Linked DNA regions of Homo sapiens. The protein of the gene in region 1 purifies or fractionates together with the protein of each later gene. This does not show direct contact. Each region holds a gene or a part of one and is shown on either strand. Other genes may lie near its edges.

Region 1 (7,026 bases):
AGTGTTCTTTGCTCTTATGCGATGGATGGACCCGTCCTCTATGCACAGTGCGATGACACCACGGCACTCCCCATTCTCCATCAGGAGATCCAAGGCAAAATACTCCACAAAATAGCTGGTATCATATCGCAGAGACTAAAAGAAAGGAAAAAAAAAGGGCAAGAAGTGTTAAGCCAAACTTTAAGGTTTTAAGGTGGTATCTGCTCATGTGAATAGGTGAAAGAACTTGATCCAAATGGACCAGGTAAATCCAAGGAGATCAGCAACAGTGTCAGTGACACTGTCAGAGCCCGAGAGGCATTCCACGCCGAGCAGTACAGACAAGGCAGGTGTGCTAGAGAACGCAGCAGCAACAGCTCCTATTTTGGTGACACATTTCCTACTTCTACACAACCCGAAGAGGCACTCCACACTGTCCGGTGGCCGCATGCAGCTCCACTCGGAGTCTGGTGCCAGAGTGAGGTCCGCAGACCATGCAGTCACAGCCCAGATGGGAGCTACTGGCAACACATAACCACTTAATTAATTAAAATAAGTCAAAACATTCAGCTCTTCAGCTACACCTGCCACATTAGCAACAGCCCCATGTGGCTGGCAGCTACCAAAGCGGACGGTTGCAGACGAGCAGATTCCGGCACCGCAGAAAGGTAGGCGCCGGACAGCGCTGCCCGCCTGGACCTGCCGTTCCCTCAGCCAGCACAAGTCGCTCTTGTAAGCCTGGGCCAGCTCCCCACATGACAGCTCCTGCTCCAGATGGAGCCGCGGTCTCCTCCCACCACACACTTGTCGATGCACTCAGCCACAGAGAAGTCACTGGTGTTCTAACAACCTGCAAATTAACGATCCGTCCCCATGCATCAGAAAACAACAAAGTTCAGAATATTGATTACTCTGAATCAATACCGTTCAGAATATTATTTGGCCATGCCAAAGTTGACTCTGATTACCCAGTAACTATTGTCACCTCAAGTCTTTCTTCAGTGTTAACAGTTAATATTAAAACAATCCATGGCCGGGTGCGGTGGCTCACGCCTGCAATCCCAGCACTTTCGGAGGCCAAGGCAGGTGGACTGCCTGAGCTCAGGAGTTCGGGACCAGCCTGGGCAACATGGGAAACCCTGTCTCTACTAAAATACAAAAAATTAGCCAGGCATGGTGGCGTGCGCCTGTAGTCCCAGCTACTCGGGAGGCTGAGGCAGGAGAATCACTTGAATCCAGGAGGTGGAAGTAGCAGTGAGCTGAGATTGTGCTACTGCACTCCAGCCTGGGTGACAGAGTGAGACTCCGTCTCAAAAACAAAACAAAACAAAACAAACAAAACCAATCCATTCAGGAACTCAGAGGTGGTAAAAGAGACTTAAAATACTTGTTCTTTTTTTTTTTTTTTTTTTGAGATGGAGTCTCATTCTGTTGCCCAGGCTGGAGTGCAGGGGTGCGATCTCGGCTCACTGCAAGTTCCGCCTCCTGGGTTCACGCCATTCTCCTGCCTCAGCCTCCCAAGCAGCTGGGACTACAGGTGCCTGCCACCATGCCTGGCTAATTTTTTTGTATTTTTAGTAGAGACGGGGTTTCACAGTGTTAGGCAAGATGGCCTCAAACTCCTGACCTTGTGATCTGCCCGCCTAGGCCTCACAAAGTGCTGGGATTACAGGCGTGAGCCACCGCACCCAGCCTGTTCTTTCTCTTTTTTTGAGACAGGGTCTCCTGTTGCCCAGGCTGGAGTGCAGTGGTACGAACATGGCTCACTGTAGCCTCAACCTCCTGGTCTCAAGTGATCCAGGAGCCTCAGCCTCCTGAGTAACTGGGATTACAAGCATGTACCACCATGCCCAGCTAATTTTTAAACTTTTTGTAGAGACAGGGTCTTGCTATGTTGTCCAGGCTGGTCTCAAACTTCTGGTCTCAAGTGATCCTCCTGCCTTGGCCTCCTAAAGTGCTGGGATTACAGACCTGAGCCACTGTGCCTGGCCTGCTTGCTCTGCTCTTGTATGTTGAGTGTCACATATCCCAAGTTAAAACCTGGTATGTAAGATTATCGATTCAACTTTCTGACATAGATGCAAGAAGTCACACACTGCCTTAGGGACAGCTCCTCAAGGCACACGTCTGGTCCTGTCACATCCACAGTCGCTGCATGCGCCCCACGCTGCTGTTCTCTGTTGCTTTTTACGTAATCTCTGGCTGACTCACTGGGCACGCTAACCCATTCCCCACTGTCACCATAAGCCCCAGCACTACGTGTCCTGTCTCAGGTGGACGGGGGCGGCCTTACCCTTCCATATAAGGTGTGCAATAGCGAGTGGCCAGTCCGATCAGCCACACAGCAGCACCGATGGGCCTGCCCGCCCTTTCCAAACTTGAGGCTCTGTCCACCAAATGCACGCTGATAAATCTTCCCATCTTCAGTTCTGCTAAACGGCATGCCATAATTTTCTAGCTGTGAAAGATAAAAACAAACAAAAACCTTAACACCTTAAAGGAGTCAAGATATTCGCAGCTAATCTACACTAAACAAGTTTAACACAAATCTGCAAACCCAAAGTAACCTATTTTATGAAAATGTCAACACTTCATCAAAGAGAAGTTTTCTTGTTACATATAATGCATAGTTCATAACGGAAAAAGACTCTTCTTGTGAACTTTGCTCATCACCATTCTTTTGGCTGCCACATCCGCCTCAATTGCTTACATTTTTTTCCAGGATTCTTTTGTACTAGAAACAGACCACGAGAACACCCAGAGCCTCCCGCCCATCACCTCGACCACGGCGGCGGGGGCCTGCTCCGTCATGTAGTGGATGGCATCCTGGTCCCCCAGCCAGTCGGAGCCCTTCACGGTGTCGTAGAAATGCCACCTCCAGTTGTCCTCCTCCATGTTCCCCAGAGCAGCATTGATTCCTCCCTGGAAACACCAACCACTCCTTACAAGCCACAAACAGGAGCGCCAACTTTGTCTTCCAGGCCCAAATCCACCCGCTGGGGGGATTCAGAGAAAGCCAACTACTCACACAGTGACTCCCAGTGAGGGCTGACCTCAGCAGAGGAGCAGCGAGACCCGACAGATTCCAGATCACAACCCCTCCCCGACTCGCCCAGTGATTCCATCCTTAGCCTCAGTCTCCTCATCTGCGTGGTGGAGACACAGGGAACTCCAGGAAGGGCTGACTGGAGCAGTGAGTGAAAGGCTACCTGTAATATGCTTATAACCTAACCTATCTGGCACAGAAAAGGTACTCAACAAATCTTTCCAGATAATTTTATTAACAAATCTTCCCAATGGCATTTACGGGCATGTGTTAAAGACTAGAAGTGCTTCCTGCCAAGTAATAAACTCCACACTCAGAGTCGCACTCCCCTGTACCCCAGCTTCCTTTGGCTGTGTGTGCCCACCACTGTCTTACCCCTCAGAGAGTCCCAGAAGACAGAAGCACAGGGACAAATGAAACCCTTGCCCTTTTCTTCCCCAACCTAAATTCTGATTCCTCCTCTTTAGGTGATCTCCTTTTCTTAAGGTGTTGGGGTGGCGGGGGTAGGTGGGGAAGGTAGTAGGCAAGATGGTCAGAGAAAACCCAAGTGTGACTGGAGTCTGAATTAGGAGTGACAACAAGTCTCCCGCCCTTCAAAGTCCCCAGGGAAGAGGCTCCAGGGAGAGACCCCTGAGAGGGTGAGCTGAGTAAGGCACAGCAAGAGGCCATGTGGCTGGAGCAGGGGGAGGAGGCAGGGGGCTGCCCAGGTAGAAAGTGCGAGGCTGCGCGGGACCTGCACGGAGTGGGAGCACAGTGGGGCACCTTTCTCTTACCTGTGCTGCAACAGTGTGTGACCTGGTAGGAAACAGCTTGGTAACACATGCTGTATTAAACCCTGCCTCAGAAAGGCCAAATGCAGCTCGCAAGCCTGCCCCTCCAGCGCCTACCACCACTGCATCAAATTCATGATCCACTACTGGATACTGAGCAGAAATCTGGAAAAGAAAAATTCACCTGTCAATCACATGTTCCACTATGCCAAACATGAAGAATCTTGTGACAGTGAAAGAGCTTGACAAAGATAAAAGGAGCAACTGCTGGGCACACAGGGCCTCCATCCTGTCCTGGGGCTGAGCCCTGAACAGTTCGGGGAGAGGTGGGCACATTCGCACCTGGAGAAGGGACTGACAATCAGATTCTACGAATGGTAGAGGGTCTATCCCATGGGGTCAGACTGAGGACCACAACTCTACTTCAGGGCCGTGCCTATGCTTATGCCTGAGAAGGTGCCAAGGAGTATTCAGTCGCTATTGTGGGCTTATAAGAAAACAACTTCTCAGCAAGTTTCAGTTTTTCAACAGAGATAGGCTCACTAAATACAAAGCAACCCACACCCGAGGGGCCCCACCATCCTATTTTCAGTAGGATTTTATCATCTATCACAGCAGATACTGTTCACTGGCCCCACCGTCCTATTTTCAGTAGGAATTTTATCATCTATCACAGCAGACACTGTTCATTTTATTTTAATTTATTGCTTTACTTGATCTAAATTTAAATCTAGTTTATAGATACATAACAGATACAAGTAAAAATGTAAACATCTATGTTTATATTTGTACTTGCAATTAAGTATTATTACACTGAAAATAATTTCAGCATGCATTGGATACCTATGAGAAATTTTTCCCTTATGTCTATGACTCATATGAAAACAAACTGGTATAGATCCTTACCCCCTAAGCCAAAAAAATCATTTATAATGGAACAAAAAGCATGAACTTACGGAATCTGAAACTTTAGCAGATGCCCTCTTGTTCCCATCAACAGTGAAGTGAAAACCTCGGGTTCCTGTTTGCAACACTGTTGGCCACTGGAGACACAGAAGACACAGATCCAGAGGGTTAGTGTCCTGAAGGAACAAATGCTGTGGGGGATAGTAATTTCCCCTTGCAAACTGTTCACCTTCTTATGTACCCAGGTGCTCCTGTGCATCCAGAGAGCTCAGCTGGGACCCTCTACTTAACCCTGAAGGCAGCCCAAGGGGCAAGGAAGGACTGAGCCCCCAGGTCCTCGTTTCCACCCTGACTTGGCACTCTAGAAAACCAGGATGAAGCTTGTTTCCAAACAGGATACTCACTGACTCAGATACGAAATGAAAAAGGCACACTTCCTCTGTGAAGTCTTAATGTATGCTACTTAGTGGAGAAGGGGAAAGACGTGTATATTGTATTACTGTATGTGGTATTTTGCAAGTAATGAAGCATTTTAACTGGCTCCATCATAGCCCTTTCCACATTACAGTTCCAATCGTCCAGGAGGGCTTGTGGTCAGTTCAAAAGGCACTCAACATTGAATCAGGAGATCTGTATCCTGGAACAGTAAAAGCTGACAGCCTAGAGGGACGAGGTGTCATCCCTTCATCACACAGGAGGATGTCGGATGCACACTCTCCCCTGCCTGGCTGCTGCTGGCTTTTTCCTGGCCAACATCTACAACTTGACACATCTTGCTGCTTAAATTTTCCATCTTAGAAAACTTTACCCAAGAAAACTGGTTTTGGTGTTTAGTTTTTAGTGGCTCTGTGTGAGAGAGGTGACACTGTCCATATGCTAAGGTTGGCCAGCCATTTAGGGGATACGTTTTCCATTCTGCTGGCTACATTTGAGAAGACCACTGAATAGTCTCAGAAATATCATCAAGAATAGTTTTAGGGGCTGGGCACGGTGGCTCATGCCTGTAATCCCAGCATTTGGGGAGGCCAAGGTGGGTGGATCACCTGAAGTCAGGAGTTCAAGACCAGTCTGGCCAACATGGCAAAACCCCATCTCTACTAACAATTAGCTGGGCGTCGTGGCGGGCACCTGTAATCCCAGCTACTTGGGAGGCTGAGGCAGGAGAATCGCTTGAACCCAGAAGGCAGAGGCTGCAGTGAGCCTAGACTGTGCCACTGCACTCCGGCCTCGGCAACAGAGAGAGACAACGTCTCCAAAAAAAAAAAAAAGAAAAGAAAAAAAAGCTTTAGGAAATAAATGCAATCAGAAGAGGGGATGTGAGGAATGTCTTCAAGTATTTAGAAATACTTGCAATTCAGAAATTACTTATTATGTGGGATAAAAAATTATTCTTCATTTCTCCAATTTCTAGTCTCTGTTTTTATTGGTATAAGCTAATTCAGCTTTTTTCTTTTTTCAGAAAATGAATGAGAAAGAACAAATATTCTTCTACCTTAGTAAAATTTTTGCATGGTAAAATCATATTTTAAGAAAGAAGTCTTTGAAATAATTTTAATACAAATGTTCTTGAAAATGTTGTAAAGTGCCCTATTAACATAGTAATAGCACCAGTAAGAACAGTATATTATACCAAATGTAAGTAGAAACAGTGAGATCACTCAATGTTTATTCGTTCTTTCTAGGATGTTGATGTGGAAGACCCACTGCCCACCCCCCACCACACACACACAGAGCTGGCTTAAAAGGGGCAGCTACTATAACACAATCTTGAACAAATTATCACGCCATCCCCCTGGCGAAAAGGACACTAACCCTCTCAATCTAAATCTAATCTGGGGCAGATTTTTGAATTTGGAAAGCCCAACTTTAAGCCAATTTCAGTCTTTAGATAAAACTCAAAACTAGTTTTGACACAAAACTAGTCTTTTGTGCCAATTGTTAATTTTTTTAGGAGAAACTATCAAACATTTCCTCAAGAAAAAAAATGGGGAACATATAACTAAAAGGAATACTTAGACCTTGCTTAACAATACAGAATTTCAGATGACTGAATTAGGAGGTGGAGGGGAAAAGTAAGAAGTGCAGAGACATTCATATCCGAAATCTAGCAAAGTAAGGGGTCCTCATCTAATACAACGCACCTATAAATCACGAGCAAGAAACTAATCTGCATGTACAACCTACACAATCACAAAAGCAGCCAACGAAGAACCTAAAAACGCACGACTGTATCAGGAAGAAGCGGAAGCAGGGTAGTTTAAGTGAACTAAATCCCCTCTCTAGGCAAGAAGTCTAAAACTGATAAAAATGCACCTGCATATCCGC
Region 2 (7,026 bases), on another chromosome or scaffold:
CCCTCTTCCCACCCAGCTAACAGTTGTCTGCCATAGAGCTATGTGTTTACATAGAGAATATATGGGAATTTCTATATTAAACTCAAACGTGAACCAGACTTTACAGTGGACCTAAGGCACTCTCTGGACCGTCAACTGACCTCTGAGGGAGGCCACATATTTGAAAAAAAATCAGTTTTTCCAAATCACTGAGATACCTTTGCACATGAAGCAAAATTACAGTCTGTCACAGAGTTGCATGTTTACTAAACATGCCCATGGGAAAATATGTTGAATGGACTGATTCTTAGAATTCTTTGGTGTTGGAAGGGACCTTAGAGATATTCTAACCCTATAATCCTGTAAGTTTAATGAATGTGTTATACTTTAAAAAAAAAAGTTTACAGAAGAAACTTTAATAAGCCCAAGAATCACCTAGGAAGCTTACTTTTTTTTTTTTTTTTTTTTTTTTTTGAGACGGAATCTCGCTCTTTCGCCCAGGCCAGGCTGCTGTGGCGTGATCTCGGCTCACTGCAAGCTCCACCTCCCTGGTTCACGCCATTCTCCTGCCTCAGCTTCCTGAATAGCTGGGACTACAGGCACCCGCCACCACGCCCGGATAATTTTTTGTATTTTTAGTAGGGGCAGGGTTTCACCGTGTTAGCCAGGATGGTCTTGATCTCCTGACCTCGTGATCTGCCGGCCTTGGCCTCCCAAAGTGCTGGGATTACAGGCGTGAGCCACCACGCCTGGCCGGAAGCTTACTTTTAAAAACATTCTGAGGCTGGACACTATGGCTCACTCCTGTAATCCTAGCACTTTGGGAAGTGGAGGAGGGAGGATCACTTGAGCCCAGAAGTTCGAGACTAGCCTGGGCAACATGATGAAACCCCATCTCTACAAAAAAAAAAAATACAAAAATTAACTGGGCATGATGGTGAGCACCTGTGGTCCCAGTTACTGGGGAGGCTGAGGTGAAAGGATTGCTTGAGCCCGGGAGGTTGAGGCTGCACTGAGCTCTGACTGTGCCACTACACTCCGGCCTGGGTGATAGAGTGAGACCCTGTCTCAAAACAAAAAAATAAAATTTCTGAGATCATCCCCAAAAATGCTGATTCAGTAAGACTATGTTGGGGCCCAGGAATGTGTATTTTTATAAGAAACCCCACCGCCAACCCTAGGTGATTTTGAAACAAATGGTCTGAGGACTAGGCTTTGAGAAACAGTCTAGTTTCCCATTGTTTTTCATTGTTGTTTGTTTGTTTGTTTGTTTGTTTGTTTTTGAGACAGTCTCGCTCTGTTGCCCAGGCTGGAGGTGCCGTGGCGCGATCTCGACTCACGGCAACCTCCGCCTCCCAGGTTCAAGCCATTCTCCTACCTCAGCCCCTCAAGTAGCTGGGACTACAGATGCCCACCACCATGCCCAGCTAATTTTTGTTATTATCAGTAGAGATGGGGTTTCACCATGTTGGCCAGGATGATCTCCATCTCTTGACCTCGTGATCCACCTGCCTCGTCCTCCCAAAGTGCTGGGATTAGAGGCGTGAGCCACTGCTACTGGCCTTCTCATTGTCTTATAGCTGTATAAACAAAGGCCTAGAGGGATGATATGAATTGCCCATGATCAAGTGGATAGTTAGGAACAGAAAGGTAGAGATAGAACCCAAATATTTTTTTCTCACTTACGAGGCACTGTTTATTCTATCACACCATCTTGAACATGATACATAAATGTCAGTTTGATTCCATATTTTGAGTTTCAGCCCAGGGCTTGTGGACTAGTAAGAGCTCTTGAGCTCCATCTGTCAGTCAAATTCTGCAGTATATGTAAAGGACCAGCACAGAGGCATTTATCATGAGGATTGATCCAGTTGTTATGAATTTGGGGGTTTCTTTATAACACTTAACAGGACTCAACCCTATCAGGAATTTCAGTACTCAATTACTCTTTTCAATTTTACTATAGTTACAGAAAGTCAAGACTCATAAACACTTCCCTGAATCAAGCAGCAGCACTGTTTCCCAGAGAATATGACTTTCTCTCTGTTGTACATTTCAGGATCGTTCTCCAGGGCAGGGTATGATCTAGGTAATCACATGGGAAAATTGTCTCCAAGGATAAGAACCTGTATCAATGTTGTAACTAATAAAAGCCACATGGCTGGGCCAGTAGTTTTTCACCCAACTTTCCAAATACAGAATATGGGTAAAACAGTAAAACATATTTTATTTCACACAATATGGGATATTTTATAAAAACCTACAAAAGAGGCCTGAAATTGTACATTTGTTCCATTTCCATTTATCCTAGCATCAAGACCATCAATAAACTAGCTCTTCCACTGGGTAGATAACCCAGGTCTCCTGAGGGTCCCTTCATCAGCTCACTGGCAGGGTATACACTGCCTAACTCAACACAGCCATGCGAGGCTCCCACAGTGTAGGCACTACTCTTATGCAAGGCTTTAGTAACAGTTAAAGATACTCTCTGTTGCAAAACTGAGTCCCAGGTAAGTTATAAAACGTTCCAGATTACCTTTGACCTGGTTTTGCAAGGTTGCAGAAAACAAAATTTGACCTCCTTTAAACAATGTGATAAAGGAAAAATGCTTACAATAGCTTTCAAAAATATTGCATCATTAAAAGCTATAAGACTGAAGAACTTCATTACAAAACAAGTGTTGGGACCAAGGATAACCCTTGTCATCCAAACTTTTGAGATTAGATTGAGAAAAACTGATGGTACAACAATTTGATTTTCAAAGCAAGAAACATTTAGAGGGAGGAGAGGCCACCAAAAAAAAAAAAAAAAGGAGAGAGAGTCCCAACAAGGTACAAGCTAGTTTTCTCTGTGCCATGATGGGATGGAGAAATAAGATGAATTAGTTCAAGGATCTTACAGTCCAGTAAAAGAACTAAACCGCATGCACAAATGATTGTGACACCCAGTAGAATGTGCTCAGTGTGCTGGGAGGGCTACAAGTGCTGCAGGAAAACAAGCAGAGGTCAAGAGAAGGCTTTTTGGGGCACTGACTATTGAGCTGAACAAATGCAGTGGGGGAGGGGGCATTCCAGGCAAAAGGAGCACCAGAGGCAGTTCTGATCAGGTGCTTAAAACAGTGAGATGCTTCATTAAAGGATATTGCGATGTAAGAACAATGGCAGTCTGGACCTAATAATAGTCATTTTTTTAAGCTGTTTCCTGAAGGGACAGGAAATGGAAAAAATAGGGACTCAGAGAGTCCAAAGAATGGCCAACAGCAGTGGCCTCACTTCCACAGAAGGAAATATTTAATTTTCTAATGCCAACTTTAGTCCAGAATCAAGGCACAGAAATAATCTAATCTACACTCTTCCCAACTCTTTGGACTGCCCAAGGAGTAACTTAAATGAGTTGTTTCAATGCACTTTGTCTCAAAGGCTTAGAATTCTCTCATATATCTTTGAATAATTCCCTAGTAATGTCTAGCACATAGTAGGCAGGCAGTCAATAAGTGTCTGTTGGGCAGGGCACGGTGGCTCATGCCTGTAATCCCAACACTTTGGGAGGCCAAGATGGGCAGATCACCTGAGTTCAGGAGTTGGAGACCAGCCTGGCCAACATGGCGAAACCCTGTCTCTATTAAAAATACAAAAATTAGTCGGGCATGGTGGCGGGCATCCGTAATCCCAGCTACTCCGGAGGCTGAGGCACAAGAATCACTTGAACCTGGGAGGTGGAGGTTGCAGTGAGCCAAGATCACACTACTGCATTCCAGCCGGGATGACAGAGTGAGACTGTCTAGATAGGTAGATAGATAGATAGATAAATAGATAGATAGATAGATAGATAGATAGATAGATAGATAGATAGATGCATACAAACATACATACATACATACATACATAATGGATAGATAATGTCTGTTGAATTAATGGGTTCCATTATTCTGGTTGATTGTGACAGGCTTTCTCTCCTGAAGCTTAAGGACCACTGGGTTGGGCATGAGGGCCTGAAAAATGATGTAACAAAATCAGATGTGAAAAAATCCATTTAAACTCAATCTACCCCAGGCCCAGCCTTACCCTACCACAGGCTTACTTACCTCTCAAAGGTCCTCCTAATCAATGACTCTGTCCAGCTCTCTGGCAGTACATGGTAGGACAGCGGTGCTCTCCTTGGGTCTCAGTGCAGCAAGTAAGCAGGTGGTGAGCACAGGATGGGCTGGAAAGGACCTGTGAGTAGGGTGGTGGAGGACCCTGTACAAGGACAGAAACCCAGACACCAAATGATTAATATATCCAAGGGCTGGGATTCCCAGCCTAGTAGCCCAAGGAAAGATAGCTTAAAGATATTCTCTAAGATTTTTCTTCTCTCCCTGCTCTTAACTAAAGCTTGCAAAGGAGGTGATTGTACATCTCCATCCAAGAACAAAACTAGCACTTTGCTGGCATATATGGGAATGCACTTTATTTTCTTCAGAAACAGGGACTGAAGAGGTAAAAACAAACTCTGAATCAGGTGTTGTTATTGAATCTGAAAGAGAAGGATAGAGTTCAGATTATTCTATATAATAGGTGCTAGTATTTGAAAAGGACCTTCCCACAGCCTCTGAGAAAAGGGAAGTAGATCATTGGTAGAAAGATGACATGGTTGCTTACAGATATCAAATGCTAACAATTATGTAAGGCCTTATGTGACCTGGTAACTCATGATAAGGAATTACCTTTGATTCCAGGGCTATTTAGAAAGCAAGAGTTCATATAAGCAAGAACTTTAACTTGGAGAAATAAAAATTAACATCAAGGAGATTACTACTTAATTACCTAAATGTAAAATGAGTATGTATTTCCTTGTTAAATTTTTGCTTACTCCTGGTGGAACTTAAACATTTTTATGACCTCCGGGTGATTTGTGTGGGGAAGAAGGAGGAGCACATGCATGTCTCTCTCTCTATATATAGTATTATAATGTGCATCATCTTGCTGTACAAAATACTGTCATTCCAAACTGCCAATGATTGAGATGCAAAATTACAGTTACAAATGGCATTTTAGGAACTATTTTTAGGTTGTCTTCAAGGACTATGTTATTAATAGCACCAGTTTGCATTTCAGTTGCTTTTCTGAATGAAGAAAAGAGATAAATCTTCAAGCTTGACTTGCTCATCAACCAACCATTTCATGATCAGAGTACATTTCCTTTCACTACCTTCCTTTTGGACCTTACCTTCTTGGTAAATATTTCTGGGGTGTTTTGTTTAATCCAGTCAGTTACTCATTCACTGAGGCAGTCTAGTAGCAGAACAAGCTACTAGACTGAATGTTTTCCTATTGGAAAGCTGCAGGTTTAGCCTGAGCACCTGACACCTTAGTAATGAAGATTGATTCAGCTCACCACCTACCCAATCTCTCTGCCTTCTAGCAATGGACTTGTTTATTCAGAAAATTCTTCCTTTTTCCTTAAAAAAAAAAAAAAAGGCAGGGGCAGACTTAATATGCTACCTTAATTTTTTAAAATTTTCTTTGAACAGACTTTAAAGGGGATGGGGGAGTAGTGTTGTAATCACTTGATTTTTCAACACCCAAGTGTGTGCTCTTTCTCTGTGGGTTTATTTCAGTCTACAACTTAAAACTAGACTGATGAAGAACCGACTGATGGAGCTGCTCTACACCCTTCAGGCAACTTTCTGTGACCACTGTTTCTCATACTCAAACTTTTAATAAAGCTTGAGGTTTTGCTCTTCAAGAAAAGATCATCCATGTTACTCATTAAATGCAGATCCACATGATTGAACAAGCACTGAGCAGAAGGCCAAGCAGCCAGCCTCTTCCAAGAAATAAGGCACTTTGCTAGAACTTAATCTGAATGGCTCATACAAGGAGGTGGGAACCTCAGAAGCCCAGAATGATTCTTTTCATTTTGCATGTGACCCTCCATACACTGACTTGGTGAGCCTCTTCTCATTTGTAGAAATAAGATTACTGGTATCTATATCACAGAGTTGTTATGAAAATTATGTGAAGTGATGTATGTAAAACTATACCAACAGTTCTATGCAAATGAAAATTTTAAATGTTTGTTATTAGTAAAGAGAGAGGTGGGTGCATGCTCTGATGTGCCACCCAGATCCCTGCTTTAGGACTGACGGACTCACTCTTCAGCTGCTGGGAGCTCTCAGCTGAGACCTCTCCCAGGACTTCTCCTTGGTTGAAGAGAGACACTTTGCCCAAGGTTAAGCACCACCACCCCAGCCTGAGTCCATTGGACTGGTCAATGGGCAGGTGTGAAGGCACAGCCTACCTCCCTTAATTTAGGAGGTAACTCTGAAGGGCATCCCAGGTCCAGAGTCCCCTTAGGATTAGAGGATCTGCTGAGGGAGACTTCTGTTGTGACTGCATTACAGTTCAATGTCTCCCTCTATCCAGTCTGCTTCCCTTGCAGCCTCACAGGTCCCATTCCCAAGAGCACTCCTGCATGCACATCTCGGAGTCTCAGAGAACCCAACCTTGACAAATAGAATTATAGGAGCTTACATGTTCTGATTGATAGATGAGCAGACTTTACAATAAAAATTATAAAAGGTAGATAGATATTTTATGCTTGCATTAGAAAATATGTAGGCCAACCAGGCAGTGGCTCATGCCTGTAATCCCAACACTTTGGGAGGCCAAGGTGGGCGGATCACTTGAGGTTGGGAGTTCAAGACCAGCCTGGCCAAATTGGTGAAACCCCATCTCTACTAAAAATACAAACATTAGCCGGGCATGGTGACAGCCGCCTGTAATCCCAGCTACTCGGGAGGCTGAGGCAGGAGAGCCGCTTGAACCCAGGAGGCAGAGATTGCAGTGAGTTGAGATCACGCCATTGCACTCCAGCCTGGATGACAGAGTGAGACTCCATCTCAAAAAAAAAAAAAAGAAAAAAGAAAATATGTAGGCCCAAACATATCTACAAAAGACTCAAGAAAATAAAAGACATTAAATATCAACTAGATAGTTGACAGGTAGATTCACATCCAGAATTTCCTTTCAAATTTCTTTTTTCTTTCTACATCTTTAAGGGAA

Evidence for each region.
Region 2: the proteins of SDHA (region 1) and SLC27A2 fractionate together in Homo sapiens (co-fractionation; 2 studies listed by BioGRID). This does not show direct contact.

What each region holds. Positions count from the first base shown.
Region 1 is NC_000005.10:221,294-228,319, reverse strand, and holds part of SDHA (succinate dehydrogenase [ubiquinone] flavoprotein subunit, mitochondrial), read right to left. Parts: intron 4,839-7,026; coding exon 4,752-4,838; intron 3,961-4,751; coding exon 3,799-3,960; intron 2,902-3,798; coding exon 2,758-2,901; intron 2,438-2,757; coding exon 2,273-2,437; intron 136-2,272; coding exon 1-135. UniProt on the Homo sapiens protein: Flavoprotein (FP) subunit of succinate dehydrogenase (SDH) that is involved in complex II of the mitochondrial electron transport chain and is responsible for transferring electrons from succinate to ubiquinone (coenzyme Q).
Region 2 is NC_000015.10:50,185,195-50,192,220, forward strand, and holds part of SLC27A2 (long-chain fatty acid transport protein 2), read left to right. Parts: intron 1-7,026. UniProt on the Homo sapiens protein: Mediates the import of long-chain fatty acids (LCFA) into the cell by facilitating their transport across cell membranes, playing an important role in hepatic fatty acid uptake.